Regions from separate parts of the Homo sapiens genome. Here all the other regions are linked to region 1. Evidence: fine-mapped expression QTL. A gene starts in region 1. Each other region holds a variant in brackets. All regions are shown on one strand. Distances are from middle to middle.

Region 1 (5,222 bases):
CGAGATTGCGCCACTGCACTCCAGCCCGGGCGACAGTGCAAGACTCTGTCTCAAGAAAAAAAAAAAAAAAAAGAAGCAGCAGCAGCTTATTTGTACTCAGTGTGTGCTTTGCACAGGGTTCTTTAATTCAGCTGAGAGTTGTAGAGCACCGTACCTTGTGCCAGGTCAGTGGTTCTCAAACCCTAAGCCCCCTGGAGCCCTGGAGGGTGTGTTAAAACACAGATTGCTGGACTCCATGCCCAGAGTTTCTGATTTTGTGAGTCTGTAGTGGGGCCTAAGAATTTGCATTTCTTTTTCTTTTTTTTTTCTTTGAGAAGGTCTCGCTCTGTCACCCAGGCTGGAGTACAGTGTCACGATCTTGGCTCACTACAGCCTCTGCCTCCTGGGTTCAAGTGATTTTTGTGCCTCAGCCTCCCAAGTAGCTGGGACTACAGGCATGTGCCACCACGCCCAGCTAAGTTTTGTTTTTTGGGTTTGTTTGTTTGTTTTTGAGACAGAGTGTCACTCTTGCCCAGGCTGGAGTGCAGTGGTGCCATCTCGGCTCACTGCAACCTCTGCCTCCCGGGTTCACAAGCGATTCTCCTGCCCCAGCCTCCCGAGTAGCTGGGATTATAGGCATGCACCACCACATCAGCCTAATTTTTGTATTTTTAGTAGAGGCGAGTTTTCACCATGTTGCCCAGGCTGGGAGAGTTTGCATTTTTAACAAGTTATCCGATGATGCGGAGGCTGAGACCAAGGACCACACTTTGAGAACCACTGAGTTCAATGTTCATGGGGAGAAACTAAGAATGTGCCCTAGGAAGTCATGCTCCAACACAAGGAAACAAACACACCAACAAGAAAGACAGTCCCATTGAGCAATAAATTCTATGAAGAAAATGAGACCAAGCATGGTGGCTCACACTTGTAATCCCAACACTTTGAGAGACTAGGGTGGCTGGATTGCTTGAGCCCGGGAGTTTGAGAGCCTGGGCAACACAGAAGACCCCATCCCTAAAATAAATACAGAAATTAGCCAGCATGGTGGCACATGCCTGTAGTCCAAGTTATTCAGAAGGCTGAGGGAGGAGGATAGCTTGAGCTGGAAAGTTGACGATACAGTGAGCTGTATTCGCAACACAGCACTCCAGCCTGGGTGACAAAGGAAGACCCAGTCAAAAAAAAAAAAGGAAATGCTGGGTGCAGTGGCTCATGCCTGTAATCTCAACACTTTCGGAGGCCAAGGTGGGAGGATTGCTTGAGCCCAGAAGTTCAAGACCAGTCTAGGCAACAGAGTGAGACCCCGTCTCTGCAAAAAAAAAAAAAACTTTAAATTAGCCAGGTGTAGTGGTGCACACCTGTAGTTTCAGCTACTCAGGAGGCTGAGGTGGGAGGATCACTTGAGCTGGGAAGGTCAAGGCTGTAGTGAGCTGGGATCGCACCACTGCACTACGGCCTGGGCAACAGAGTGAGAAAAATAAAAATTTAAAAGCCGGAAGCTACTGGAGTTTGGGAGCCGACAGGAGGGATTCCAGAGGGAAGGAGAAATGAAAGACGGAAGACAGGTTGGGGTTGCTGAGCCTTGGGAAGGCTTACAGCAGTCAGGTCCCTGTCCAGAAGTGGGTGAAATCGGAGAGCGCAAGGGCTCACGTGCCCTGGGAACATCCGTCTCTCATGCGAACTTTACAAACACTCCAAAAGGAAAGCACGAGTCCCCCATCTTACAGATGAGGAAACTGAGGCACACAGGTGAAGGGACACGCCCAAGGTCCCACGACTCACAGGACAGGACCTGAGTCCGTGAGAGGAGCCCACGCGCCTCGCCCTGGCCCCGTTGCTCCTGCCGGCTGCGATCGAGACCCACCCTGGCGCGCGGGCAGGGATGCCCTTGGGAGAGCCGCCCGACGACGGGGAGGCCCCGCGAACGGCGGGCGGGGCGGGGCGGGGTGCCCCCTCCGCCCTAGCTCCGCCCCTGGCGGCGCTGGAAGACCCGCGGGGCTGGCAGCAGGGTGCAGGCGCGGGGCGCGGGGCAGGCAGAGCGGGCGAAGGCGCGGAGCTCGCAGTGCAGCCCGCGCTTCCCAGCGTCCGTGCCCGGCCGCCTGTGCCTACCGTGCCCGTGGCGCCATGGCCGCTGCCGCCCTCCCGCCCCGGCCGCTGCTCCTTCTGCCGCTAGTGCTGCTGCTGAGCGGCCGCCCCACGCGCGCCGACAGTAAGGTACGCACGCCCCTCGGACCCGCGCGGCTCGGCGGGTAGCGGGGCGCGAGGGGGCGCTGTGGCTGGGGTGCGGCCCGGGAGGGAGCCCGGGGCCAGGGCGGAGGAGCCGGGAGCTGAGAGACCGAACCTGGGACTTCTCAGCACTGAAGCCGCAGGGGCAGGGGCCCCGAGAGAGGGGCGCGTGGAGGAACAAGCGCTGGAGATGTAGGGATGCTAGGGACCCGGGGCCTGAGGAAGGGGCGCTGGGACCGGGTCCGATTCCCGGAGGGGTCGGGGGATTTCCCCGGAGTGCTGGCCAGACTCGGGGTTCGTAGGGGAAGCTCCTGGCAACTGTTACCCAACGACTCCCAGGCTTGCAGCAAGCCCTGGGCCACGGCTTTCACGGCCCGCTGGGGACTGGGGGTCTTCTCTACCCGATGAACGCAGCCGCGCTGGCCACTCGCCTGGCCTCTGATGTTCTTGCCAGGGACCGGGTGCACCCCCTGGAGGACTAGGTAGCTCCAGAAGTGGTCTGAGCTGTTCTCTGCTGTGGCTAAGAGGATCTGCTCTGGTGTCAAGCCGACCTGGGTTCAGTCGCACATCCGCTTCTCATCCGCCATCGCCCATCTGAGCCTCCGTCTATTCACCTGTAGATACAGGGAGAATCATGGGACCCACTTCCTGCAGTTGATGGTCTCTAGATGCGGTGTGGTCATGCCTGTAAAGTACTTAGCACTAGGCCGGGCGCGGTGGCTCACGCCTGTAATCCCAGCACTTTGGGAGGCCGAGACGGGCGGATCACAAGGTCAGGAGATCGAGACCATCCTGGCTAACACGGTGAAACCCCGTCTCTACTAAAAATACAAAAAAAAGTAGCCAGGCATGGTGGTGGGCGCCTGTAGTCCCAGCTACTCCGGAAGCTGAGGTAGGAGAATGGCGTGAACCCGGGAGGCGGAGCTTGCAGTGAGCCGAGATCGCGCCACTGCACTCCAGCCTGGGCGACAGAGCGAGACTCCGTGTCAAAAAAAAAAAGAAAAAAAAAAAATACTTAGCACCAGAGCACTTGGGGTGTTCTGGAAATGACTCCCTGATGGCCAGGTTCAGTGGCTCACACCTGTAATCCTAGCACTTTGGGAGGCCAAGGCAGGTGGATCGCTTGAGGCCAGGAGTTCAGGACCAGCCTGGCCAATATGGTGAAACCCCATCTCTACTAAAAATACAAAAATTAGCTGGGCGCAGTGGCACAAGACCAGTCTAGGCAACAGAGTGAGACCCCGTCTCTATAAAAAAAAAAAAAATTAAATTAAATTAGCCAGGTGTGGTGGTGCACACCTGTAATCCCAGCTACTCGGGAGGCTGAAGCAGGAGAATCGCTTGAACCCAGCAGGCGGAGGTTGCAGTCAGTGGAGATTGCGCCAGTGCACTCCAACCTGGGGAACAGAGCAAGATTGTGTCTTAAAACAAAACAAAACAAACAAAAAAAAAAACGGACAGACCTTGGGGAGAGTGAGGAGCAGGACCAGAGCCCTGGTCACAGAGCGTGAGGGCAAAAAAGTGACTTCCAATACCTCTCCAGCCTCTTTCCTGGTAGAATGTGAGTGTCCTGCCTGCCCACGGACAGATAAAAGACAGAAGCCACTAGCCACACGGTGAGTATATGAGCAGTGGGCACTGGCCAACTCTCAGCCTGATTCAGCTCAGGGCATGAAAGCACCCACGTACAACGCTGCTCATGTACTCCAGAGACAAGGAGGGAATGAGTATTTTTTCTAATTTACAGGTGGGGAAACTAGGGTGTTTACAGAGGCAGCTGGCTTGTACATTTAAAACCCTAGGTTCTGGCCTTCCTCTGCTATTCTTCTGCTGTGTGACCTTGGGCAAATCACTGCCTGTCTCTGGGCTTCAGTTTCTTCATCTAAGAAACATCTCCCCAACCTTCCTTCCATATGGGGCCCTCTGGGATTCCCTGATCTGGCTCAGGTATGATGACAAGTGAGTAGAAAATCCTAGGTAACCTGATCAGTGCCTTGTCACCACTGGGATCTCTGGCTGGGAGGGATATTTGGTGTTGGGCATCGTCTGTGCAGAGAGCTGTAGAGCTTGTGGGGGAGAGCTCACATTCTAAACAAAGCAGAGACAAAGAAAACCCAACACCCTGTTTGTGTAGTGAGTCAGCCAAACACTTGCTAGGTTGTGTGTGTGTGTGGTGGGGGGGGGGTGTTTAGCTGTCCCAGGACAAGCTGGGGCTGGTGGGGTGGAGAGGCACAACCTAGAGCTTGCAGGATGAACAGCTGGGGGACTCAGCACAGCCCTCCCCCAGACACCTCCCACCCCCAAACCACTTCAGCCAGCTGGGAAAAATAAAAATCAAGTGATGGGTGAATTTACTCTGCATTCCTTAGCTGAGCCAGACTCCTGCTGGCTCTGCAGAGAGAGCTGTTTTCATTATCACTCGCTCCTTCCCCCATCACAACCCCGCCTTCCTCTCCAAGCCCATTCCGTTTTCCCTGGGGTGGAGGATGAGCCCTTCGGAGGGCCAGCCTGGGACTTGAAGTCAATGTAGGGCCCTAAAGGGTTAAGTTGGCCCCTCCTTGGGCTTCCTGTTCCTGGGAGCTCTAGTCTGCCCTCTGGCCCAGCACATTCAGGGGTCCAGGGCAGCTCACCCCAGGACTCTGTTGGTCTCCTTGGCCAGCTCCTTGCTCAACGTGTTTTCATTTCATGTTTATAACTAGGTCTCTCCTAAACTGGATTTTGAGTTTCCATCTAAGGAAGTGCTTTGTCGGGGCTGGGAGGAGGAGGGGGACCCCACAGCTTCCCTGGTATTTCTGAAGGGCTGCCCAGCACAGAGGTTGGAATGGACAGGTAACCACATGACACCCAGGCATAGCACCGCAGACCTCTGGGGAGCTGCTTCTTGCTGTGGGTTCTTGGAATGTGACTGAGAATTTTCCATCTCTACCTCAGTTTCCCCATCTGTGAAAGGGCTGCCGGTGCCTCACTCCCTCCAGCATCAAGGGGTGGGGAGGGGGTCTTTGGTCAGCCTGCTG
Region 2 (5,222 bases), 170 kb after region 1:
GCACGTATTTACTATCCTCTTATCCTCCCCAACCCTATCATCCTTGGGAGAGGTTTGAAGGCCCAGATTTTTATAGCACACCATGCATCTAATATTAAAAACTCTACTTCATGTGCGAATATATCATCAACTTGCAGAACACAAGTGGTCTCATAGAGACACAGCAATACGAGTGAAGGCATTTTATTCAGTGGAAGCATTTTCTCAGATGAGCCTACTCACCTTTGATATGCAAGTCCAGTAAGAAAAAATCTGTAGCCGGAAATGCCAAGACAGGACTAAATTAATCATAGCTGCTGCAAATATACAAATTAACAACCTCCCGTTCCTCACTAAATCCTATCCTACTTAGGTTAGGCCATCCCTTAGCTAATGCCCCCTTTTCTGCCTCATAGAGACACATAAAACACTGATGAAAAAAGAATTGTTCCAAAATCAAAATTCAGTATGAGGCATAAAAATGACAACTGGGAATATATTTCCCCTATTTAATGGACATTTTCCTATGTTTTTAAATGTGATTAAAGCAATTTTTTTCCACAGCCTCTCTATTAAGCCCCAATATACATAATTTACTACTCAGTAATAATACTTAAATATGGATCAAGAAAATAAAGGACTACTACAGCCTAAGAATCTGCTGGTGTCTCAGTTTCACATACTTAGGTTTTTCAGGTTATATCACTAATTTATCATCAGTTTAAATAAAAATTTGCAGGTGATTTTAAAGCTAAGAATAAATATCTAGCTTTCTGTTAAGATCTTCATATCCTAATTTCAACTCCAAATTAGCCCATTTTATCCAAACACAAGCCTCTCAAAATAGAGGCTTATGAATGAGATACAGCCACAACCTAATTACAGCAGCATGAACAATGCCACTAGGATGTCCTCACAGAACTTAAATAAATTCAGCCCACAATGGGTATGGGTACATAATATACACATACTGTATCACTGCATACCAATATATTTACAAATATGTATACATATATACAAAAAGTATACACAGAGATTGCATGTAGCATCACAAAAATATACATATGCCATTACAAATAAAATAAGAATTTCAAATAAATAAGGTCAACAAAAGAGCCCTCAAGGTAAATACCCTCTATGATTTCCAAACACACACAGGAACATATACACCCAAAACATCACCAGGAGACTCATAGCATTCATATTCATATCAAATCTTTTACTCAGGGTGGGGAGGTGGTTTTGAATCACTGGCAATGGCCAAATTAGCAGACCTTGGTACCTGACTATATTTCCAGTCCAGAGTGTTCTCTGTATATCAGGCTGATTACAAGTCTCCATAAATAAAATTTTTCAGCTGGGTCCAAACTGCTTCTCAGAGACAGAAAGTTACTATATCACACATGTCAGAGATTAAACTTGGAGGAGAGTGCTAAAGAAAGCTCCATAATACCTAATACATAAATCCGATTTGTCGCTTTTCCCATTATCCTGACTAAATCAGTATAATTACGACATAATCTGTTTCAGGGAATTCTATTGCACAAAGGAAATAAAGGGCAGTAGCCAGAAGTTGGAGGGGAGGGAACCACCCGGATCCTCTATCAGGAAAACTCCAGCCACAATTGGATTGCACTTTGCTTCTGAAATCCTGAAACGTTTCAATTTGGTAAAAATAAAGAGGGTACAATAAATTCTGTGCTTTGAAAGGTTTGAGAGCACCACTTTCTAAGAGAAACACACACATGCAAATGAAGAATACATCCTGGCTAGAATAAAAGATAAAATGTCAGATTTGTGGATTTTTACAATAAAAATTTGATACTGTTTTGTGCCAAAATACAAATCCCTAATTATTCTTTCTTGTTCATTATAGAAAGCAGTCTGAGCTACTGAGAAGACTGGGCTGAGATGAGGAGATCTGAGTTTTAGTTCTAGCTCTATCACTATGAATAGCTTTTTGGGTCTCAGCTTTCTCTTCTGTAAAATAGAGAAGATAGTTGCTTTACCAACTTCAGAAATATACAGATAAAGAAAGAGAAAATTCCACTGTGCTTCATTTTGTTTTGTGTATAACTGACTTCTTGCAGTCTTATGCTTTCTATGTTGTTTACAGTGATAGTTAAGAGAGATGAGAGACTATCAGAATCTCCAGGGACAGTTTGTGCAATTTGAAAACAAAGGAGTGCTTTTTCCCTTTGCTTTGCTCTGTTCTTAGTTCCAATATTTAAATTTTTATGAATTATAAAATTAAATACATTAGGGTTTAAATTTTTTTATAAAGGGCAGGTGGTATGCATTTTTAAAAAATGAAATTCTTTGCCACTATCATCAGCTCAAGCCCATTGGGCAACTGTCCTTTTAGATAATTCTTCTCCCTTGATTAAAGAAATACAGAAGCTGGGT[A/G]AGGTACAAGGAGGATTTATTAAACTGTATGTTTAGGCTGGGCGTGGTGGCTCATGCCTGTAATCCCAGCACTTTGGGAGGCCGAGGCCAACGGATCACCTCAAATCAGGAGTTCGAGACCAGCCTGACCAACATGGTGAAACCCCATCTCAAAACACAAAATTAGCTGGGTGTGGTGGCACATGCCTGTAATCCCAGCTACTGGGGAGGCTGAGGCAGGAGAATCACTTGAAACTGGAAGGTGGAGGTTGCAGTGAGCTGAGATCCTGCCACCACACTGCAGCCTGAGTAACAAGAGTGAAACTCCGTCTCAAAAACAAAAAACAAAAAAACTATGTTTAAAACTTTCATAAAAAGAAAGAAAAGGCAAAGTGTTCATGCAAATGTGACCTTCCTAATGAAGCCTACCCTGATCATCACTTTTTCTTTTCTTTTTTTCCAGAGACGAGGTCTTGCTTTGCCATCCAGGCTGGAGTGCAGTGGTGCAATCACAGCTCACTGCAGCCACAAACTCCTGGGCTCAAGTGACCCTCCCACCTCGGCCTCCCAGGTAGCTGGGACTAATAGGGTCATGCCACCATGCCCTGCTTGATCACTCTTTTAAACATTGTTCTTCTCTTAAGAAAACAAACAAAAGATTTACCTTACCATAATCTACACTTTTCCATCCTACTTAACATTTTCTAACATAAATTACTTATGTTTATTGCCTTACTCCTTCTACTAGAATGTAAGCTTCATGAACATGAGGATTTTTAAGTCTATTTTGTTTGCTTCCCCAATGCCCAGAAGAAAATCTGGAGTATAGTCTTTGTTTAATACGCATTTTTTTGAAGGCATCAATGAAACAATAACATTTTCCAGCACAGTTTTCCTCTCTTTGAAGATTCAAGATCACTTCAGTCCACTTTAGATTTTTAACTACCAGTAAGGAATTACACTATTAGCTTAAGGGGCAACATCATAAGGGTCAATGTTGTGATTTCTAAGACCCTCATTTTTAGACAAGCATGTTTCTAATCATAAAAGCTCTAATTTCCTCAGGAGAGTCTCTGTCTGTACTAGTTTCTAAAACAGCTAAGTGGGACCCAGATTTTCTTGAACAAAATCTAGGTAAATATGACTTACAAAAGAAAAGGTTGTGTACACTACAAACAGGGTAAATAGTTCTCTTGGTGGTTGGAGTGGGGAAATCAATATTTTTGGAACCAAGAGTCCAAATTACAGAATCAGAGTTGGAGAAGACCTGGGCCAACCTCTTCATTTTACAGATGAGAGTGCTAACAAGCAGAGACATGAAGACAGTTGTCAAAGGGCATAACGCTTAAGTTACCAGGAAAGCCAGGACTAGAACTTAGGTCTCCTAGTTCTCAGACCAGTGTTCTTTATGCTTAACGGGGGAGGATAAAGCTCAGAACAGTAAATACTATTTTAAACATTAGAGGACAGGAAACTCTGTGTTGGTAGGAGCATAACTGGCACAGGACTTAAGGGGAATTGAAACAAGAGGTCAGAAAACCGAAGATAGTCTATTGCTGTAGTTCAATGAACACTGTTACTAAAGGAAAGCTATGAAGTTTATTAAGATACTGAAAAAAAAGGAAAGCAGTCTTTACCTGAAAATGAAAACCCACTAGCAAAGGAAATCTTTCCAGGGTAACTTTTCCCAAGCTTTCTGAAATACTGTTTGAAAGAACAAACAAAAAAATTTTTAAAAAGTAAACAGGCCAGGTACAGTGGCTCACACCTGTAATCCTAGCACTTTGGGAGGTTGAGGCAGGAGGATCACTTGAGCCCAGGAGTTTGAGGCCAGCCTGCTCAACAAAGTGAGACCATGTCTCTACAAAAAATTAAAAAATAAAGAAAATTAGCCAGGCATGGTGGCGCATGCCTGTAGTCCCAGCTACTTGGGAGGCTGAGGTGAGAAGATTGCCTGAATCCAGGAATTTGAGGCTGCAGTGAGCCATGAATGTACCGCTGCACCCCAACCTGGGCAACAAAGCAAGACTCTGTCTCTTAAAAAAAAAAAAAAAAAAAAGTAAAATACTCCCCAAGTCCCCAAACCCCAAAAACAGTAACTTTGGACTTCAGGTTTGAAAAATCAGCAAATCAAAGCAGGAATGGGAATAACTTAGACCCAAATTAGTCTCTATGCCAGAAATGAAAACCAAGTTAAAAATAATAGCCAGGTGCGGTGGCTCACGCCTGTAATCCCAGCACTTTGGGAGGCTGAGGCAGGCAGATCACAAGGTCAGGAGTTTGAGACCAGCCTGACCAACATGGTGAAACCCCGTCTCTACTAAAAATACAAAAATTAGCCAGGCATGGTGGCGGGCACCTGTAATCCCAGCTACTCGGGAGGCTGAGGCAGGAAAATTGCTTGAACCTGGGAGGCGGAGGTTGCAGTGAGCCGAGATAGCCCCACTGCACTCCAACCTGGGCAACAAAAGCAAGACTCTGTTTCAAAAAAAATAAATAAATTTAGAGTATAATTTACCTAGGGCCATGGGAAAGAGATATCAAAAGCAATCAGCTCACTTCTCCTGGGACTGCCAGATGTGATCCTGTACAGAAAATTAGGTATAAGGCCTTCTCATTCATAGATTTCTGAAATTGAATGCTGCATAATCAAAAAGGAGGGAGGACTTCATAGCAAGTGACTGTGAAATTATAAAGGGAATGACAGGGAAGGAAAACACAAAAAAGAAAAATCTTTATAATATACACTGAGTCCTATTTAAGATAATAAAAATTTTGTGCATGAATATAAAATACTAAATACAGGGAATGTTAATAAATCTTATTTCCAAATTACCAATGCAAAATCAACTTACATT
Region 3 (5,222 bases), 24 kb after region 1:
TACATTTAGTACCATGCACATGTATTATCTATTTTTTTAATTCCTTCACTTTTTAAATTTAAAAAGTTCATAAACACAGGGTCTCTTGGAGCCTATTTTTCCTGCTCATGCTCACTGCGGCCGCCCCTAGCCCGTTCGGGGGACTGGGCAGCAAAGCCTAATGACCAAAGCTGGGGTGTCCCTCCAGGCTAGGGGTTCAGAGGAAGCTGGCCCAGGAAAGACCTCCAATCCTGCCCCCTCCGCAGAGCATCAAGGCCAACCTGAGCCGGGAGAATGAGGTGGTGAAGGACAGCGTGCGCCACCTCAGTGAGCAGTTGAGGCACTATGAGAATCACTCTGCCATCATGCTGGGCATCAAGAAGGAGCTGTCCCGCCTGGGCCTCCAGCTGCTGCAGAAGGATGCCGCCGCCGCCCCTGCCACCCCTGCCACGGGCACTGGTAGCAAGGCCCAGGTGAGGCCCCAGCTCTGATCATGGGGCCGGAGCTGGCTGAACTTGGGAGCTCAGTGTGCCAGGACGTTGGCCCTGTGGATCAGCTCGATGGGGGTTTGGGGCTGTAAGATGGGGTTGAGGACTGGCACAGCCAGAGAGTCCCTGGCAGGGTGAGGTGCAGGGGATACCTGCTGTACAGCAAGCACAGTCAGCACAGGGAATGGGGGATAGGCCTGGGGATCCTGCCAAGGGGGCTGGTCCCTAAGCCAGGTGTTTGGCATCCTTCTCATTCCCAAGCTTGAAACTAGTAGGGACAAGCTTGTGGAGGTGGTGCCCCCTGCCTGGCCCTCAGAGACCAGGTTGGCTGCAGCAAAACCACTTCTAGCCTCCCCTGCTGTGGCTGGGTTGAGCCTGCTCAGAGGGAGGTGGGCAATGCCTCAGGGACCCCTGCAGACTGATACCCATTCATCCAACCCACCCTGGGGTACAGAACCCCTGCAGCCAATACCCAGGCACTCGACCTCCAAGCTCAGAGCAGAGTGAGCAGAGGCACTGGTTCTGTCACTAGGCAGAGCCACCCATGACAGATAACACACCTGCGTGCAAATGTGATAAACGTCCTCTCTGTAGGCAGATGAACTGTGAAGCTGGTTCTCCCTCTGAGCAGATCAATTAGAAGGAACAACCACTTTTGGGTGAGCCGGTTGCACAGAGGCTCCTGCCTTTGCTGGGTATGTGGCTTGGCAAATGGAGTGCAGACTGGATTCAACCCCATTCAGGCTCCTCTGGCCAGTCACCCTTGGGCAAGACACAAGCCACACCATTGTTCACACTGGCCTTGTGTTTTGGTGAGTGGCTGAAGAAGGGAGCTGACATTTGTGGAATTCCTACTTTAAACTTGACTTTCTCACAGACATTGTCAGTGAACCCCATAGTCACCTGGGAGGAGGGGCGACCCCTGCCCATTTGGCAGATGAGGCATGGAGAGAGGTCACATGGAGAGGCGGTGGCGGAGCTGGGACTGGCAGCCAGGTCTGCGTGACTGCCAAGCCCACCCTCTTCCTCTCTTCTTCTCCACATCTCGGTCTCCTTTGCTGACATTGTGATAATGCGGCCATTTGTGTCTGCAACTGGGACTGCCTAGATGCCGATAAAGCAGCTAGGAAGCCTGTGCCTTGGCCCCCAGCTGGCTTCCTGCTCATTCCCGTGCCAATTCCGCAGGCGAGAATGAAGCGTGTTTTGGCAATGGTGCAGAAGGCACCCAGCTACTGTACTTGCCGTATCTGCTGGAGCTTCTGCCTAACGATGAGTGATGTCACAGGCCCTGTGTTCTTGTGCCAAGCCAGCATCGGAGGCATTTAAATAGGAAGTGAAAATAACAAAACACAAAAAGTTAGAAATGGCATATCCTAGAGGTTGGGTGACCAACCCTGTCCCAGTTTGCCTGGGACTTGAGGGTTTTTCCAGGATGCAGCACTTTCAGTGCTAAAACTAGGAATGTTCCAGGCACTCTGGGATGAGTTGGTCACCTTGCCTAGGTGCCTAAGAACCTCTCCCCTGCCCACGTACTAAGACCAATGAGTAAGAGAGACAAGGCTGGGAAGGTGAGCAGGT[G/A]GAGGAGGCTGCCTCCCAGGGAGCTGGTCCTTCTAGCCTGCCCCCCAGGGGGATTGGACAGGAGTTGAGAAGTGGGACAGGAATCTAACCTATCAGGTTGGACTTCAAGCCTGCAAGGGAGCTAAAGAGCTGGGTGAGGAAACTGAGGCAAACCAGTCATGGATGTAGCCACCATGGTGGGGTAAAGGAAAGCTGTGACTTTGTGAGTGCTTGGGACATAGGGCCTGGGGCAACATGGCCACCTCCAGTCCCCACATGCTGAGCCCCCAGGACTCCCCACAACATTTCTTCTACTGTCCTTCAAGTCTGAGACTTCTCTTCCCTCCCAGGACACAGCTAGAGGAAAAGGCAAGGACATCAGCAAGTATGGCAGTGTGCAGAAAAGCTTTGCAGACAGAGGCCTCCCAAAACCTCCCAAGGAGAAGCTGCTTCAGGTGGAGAAGCTGAGAAAGGAGAGCGGCAAGGGCAGTTTCCTCCAGCCCACAGCCAAGCCCCGCGCCCTGGCCCAGCAGCAGGCTGTGATCCGGGGCTTCACCTACTACAAGGCAGGCAAGCAGGAGGTGACCGAGGCGGTGGCAGGTGAGTAGGAGGGGAATGGGGACCCTGGGGAGTCAGGGATGGATGCCTCCTAGGAATCCCCTCATCTTCTCTGCAGTGGGACCACCCCAGATTCAGTTCCACCCATTGATTACCTGTTGGGTGCCCTCTGCTCATTCACATATGAGGATAACACCCCACTCAGGGGGTCATTGGGATGAGATGGCAGAACCAACCTGCAGGGCCACTCAGTGGCTTTTCAGTATTTACAGCTGTCTTCACCTTCACTGGACTTTTCTTTGTGCTTTTGAAAATGTGCTGAAGGTCCGCTCTGACCAGGTGACAGGGAATGGTAGAGACACAGTCCCTGTCCCCACAGATCTCACAGTCTAGTGAGAAAAAATACCTATGACCAGGCAGCTGCCACAGTGAGGGGCAGGAGAATACCGGGCTCCTGAGAAGTGACAAGGGCTTTCAGGGCATCTCTCATTTCCTCTCCAGCTCCTCCCTCTTCTTATATCCCCAAGGAAGAGCCCACAGACTCTTGTATTTTTCCTGCAGCTCTCTGCTGCATCACAGAGAAGGGTGACAAAGTAATTGGCAAACAAGAGACACACGTTTCAAGATACCCCAAATTTCTGAGCCATCTCTACGGGTTGTGGTTCTTGATTCCCCCACTAAGACCCGCCCCAGATGGCTGCTCTCTTCTGATGTCCCAGAGGGGTGTCCCAAACCTGCTCCTCCCCTTCCTAGGTCCTGCTGACCACCTCCTCCTGCAAAGCCCTCCTTCCAGCCCATGTGCAAGGGGCGCAAGGAGGTGAAACAGTCAGGGACCAGGCTCCTTTGAGAGCCCTCTTGTTTCTTGGCCTCTCAGGACTCAGGGGCCTCTTTACCCTGGTCCCAGCTGCTGGCCCAAGCCCTGCCAGCTTGGTCTGGACATGGCACAGAGCCTCTGACCCCTGGCTGGGGCACTGCCTAAGAACAGCTGCAGGCATCTGACTCTGCCAGCAAGGCCTGTGGGAACAGGCACCCTGCCCTGGCAGGCTGCTTAGGCCAGGCCTCCCTGTGGTCCTCCTCGACCAGGGGGATGACCCCCTTCCCCGCCAGGGCCCAGGCTGCCCACAGCAGGGCCTGTGCAAAGAGGAAGCCCAAAATGGAGAAAAAAGGAAGAAGTTATTGTCCTCAAGTCAAGGGTTCTCTGAGCCCCTCACCCAGCTGACCAGGAGGTCCCCTGGGCACCAGACCATCATAGTAATAACAGCACCATTCCTTTGTCTCCCTGGTGTCACAATTTTTTTTTTTTTGAGACAGAGTTTCGCTGTTGTCACCTAGGCAGTGGTGCAGCGGTGCAATCTCAGCTCACTGCACCCTCTGCCTCCTGGATTCAAGCAATTCTCTCGCCTCAGCCTCCCAAGTAGCTGGGATTACAGGCACGTGCCACCATGCCCGACTAATTTTTGTATTTTTAGTAGAGACGGGGTTTCGTCATGTTGGCCAAGCTGGTCTCGAACTCCTGACCTCAGGTGATCCATCCACTTTGGCCTCCCAAAGTGCTGGGATTACAGGCATGAGCCACCGCGCCCGGCCGGTGTCACAAAAGTGTAAAAGTGTTTCCCTAAACCCTTCCTTCCTTCCTTCCTTTCTTTCTTTTTTTCTTTTGAGACAGGGTCTCACTCTGTCACCCAGGTTGCAGTGTAGTGGCACGATCATGGCTCACTGCAGCCTTGACCTCCTGGGCTCAAGTGATCTTCCCTCCTCAGCCTCCCTAATAGCTGGGACTACAGGGGCCCATCACCACACCTGGCTAATTTTTTCTATTTTTTAGTAGAGACAGGGTTTTGCCATGTTGGCCAGGCTGGTCTTGAACTCCTGGGCTCAAGCGATCTGCCGGCCTCAGCCTCCCAAAATGCTGGGATTACAGGCACCAGCCACTGCGCCCAACCCTCTAAGCACTTTCGTTCATGCCGTCTCATTTGATTCTGGCAGCAGCTGCATTTTCCATGGCAGAATAATAGGAGAAGGCCTGTAAAACGGGAACAAGAGCTTCTCTCTAGAATTGAATCTAGCAAATGAGAGAACTGGTACAAAGTGCTTGATGCATAGGAAGGAAAGGGATCTCCTTTTTGGTACCTCGTATTTGCTGGGATCTGTGCAAATGTTTATGTACATTTTTCTGTAGTCAACACCACAGTCCAGCATGGTGGGCTCCTGACTCTCAGTTCACAGAGGTGGCCCAGGAAGGCAGGGGGACATGGCTGAGGCCACCTGGCTGGGTTTAGAGCCCTGGCTGTGAAGTCCTCCCTGCCTCCCATTTGGAGACCTTTCACCCCCCTCCAGGTGTGAGGAGGCCCTGAGGAGGCCTCCCCCTCCACTCCCTGAGGGCCCCTGAGATGGGGGCCCAGTGGACCTTAGGGAGACCCACACGGCAGCAGGTGGTGCTGAGATTTGAGCACAGGGGTCTTCTCTCTGCAGACAACACCCTCCAGGGCACTTCCTGGCTGGAGCAACTGCCGCCCAAGGTGGAGGGCAGGTCCAACTCCGCAGAGCCCAACTCCGCAGAGCAGGATGAGGCTGAGCCCAGGTCCTCCGAGCGAGTGGACCTGGCTTCTGGCACCCCCACTTCAATCCCTGCCACCACCA

Evidence for each region. PIP is the estimated chance that this variant, and not a neighbour inherited with it, causes the effect. A credible set is the group of variants that fine-mapping cannot tell apart.
Region 2: its variant is the best candidate, but not a certain one, in a credible set for the expression of OLFML2A in amygdala (GTEx, PIP 0.53).
Region 3: its variant is the best candidate, but not a certain one, in a credible set for the expression of OLFML2A in pancreas (GTEx, PIP 0.84).

The regions. Positions count from the first base shown.
Region 1 is chr9:124,775,165-124,780,386 of GRCh38, forward strand. OLFML2A (olfactomedin like 2A) reads left to right here and starts at 1,969. Exons shown (of 8, transcript NM_182487.4): 1 at 1,969-2,196. The coding sequence starts at 2,107. RefSeq lists silencers at 1,873-1,972, 2,043-2,342.
Region 2 is chr9:124,946,657-124,951,878 of GRCh38, forward strand. SCAI (suppressor of cancer cell invasion) reads right to left here. Exons shown (of 18, transcript NM_001144877.3): 18 at 1-5,222. It also overlaps a transcript of GOLGA1 not described here. Among named protein-coding and RNA genes, the nearest start is that of GOLGA1, 8.2 kb to the left of the region's middle. RefSeq lists an enhancer at 3,728-3,777. The variant A/G (reference allele first, on the strand shown) is at 2,386.
Region 3 is chr9:124,799,040-124,804,261 of GRCh38, forward strand. It overlaps OLFML2A (olfactomedin like 2A), which reads left to right. Exons shown (of 8, transcript NM_182487.4): 4 at 246-452; 5 at 2,375-2,624; 6 at 5,055-5,222. Among named protein-coding and RNA genes, the nearest start is that of OLFML2A, 25 kb to the left of the region's middle. RefSeq lists enhancers at 1-402, 403-916. The variant G/A (reference allele first, on the strand shown) is at 2,046.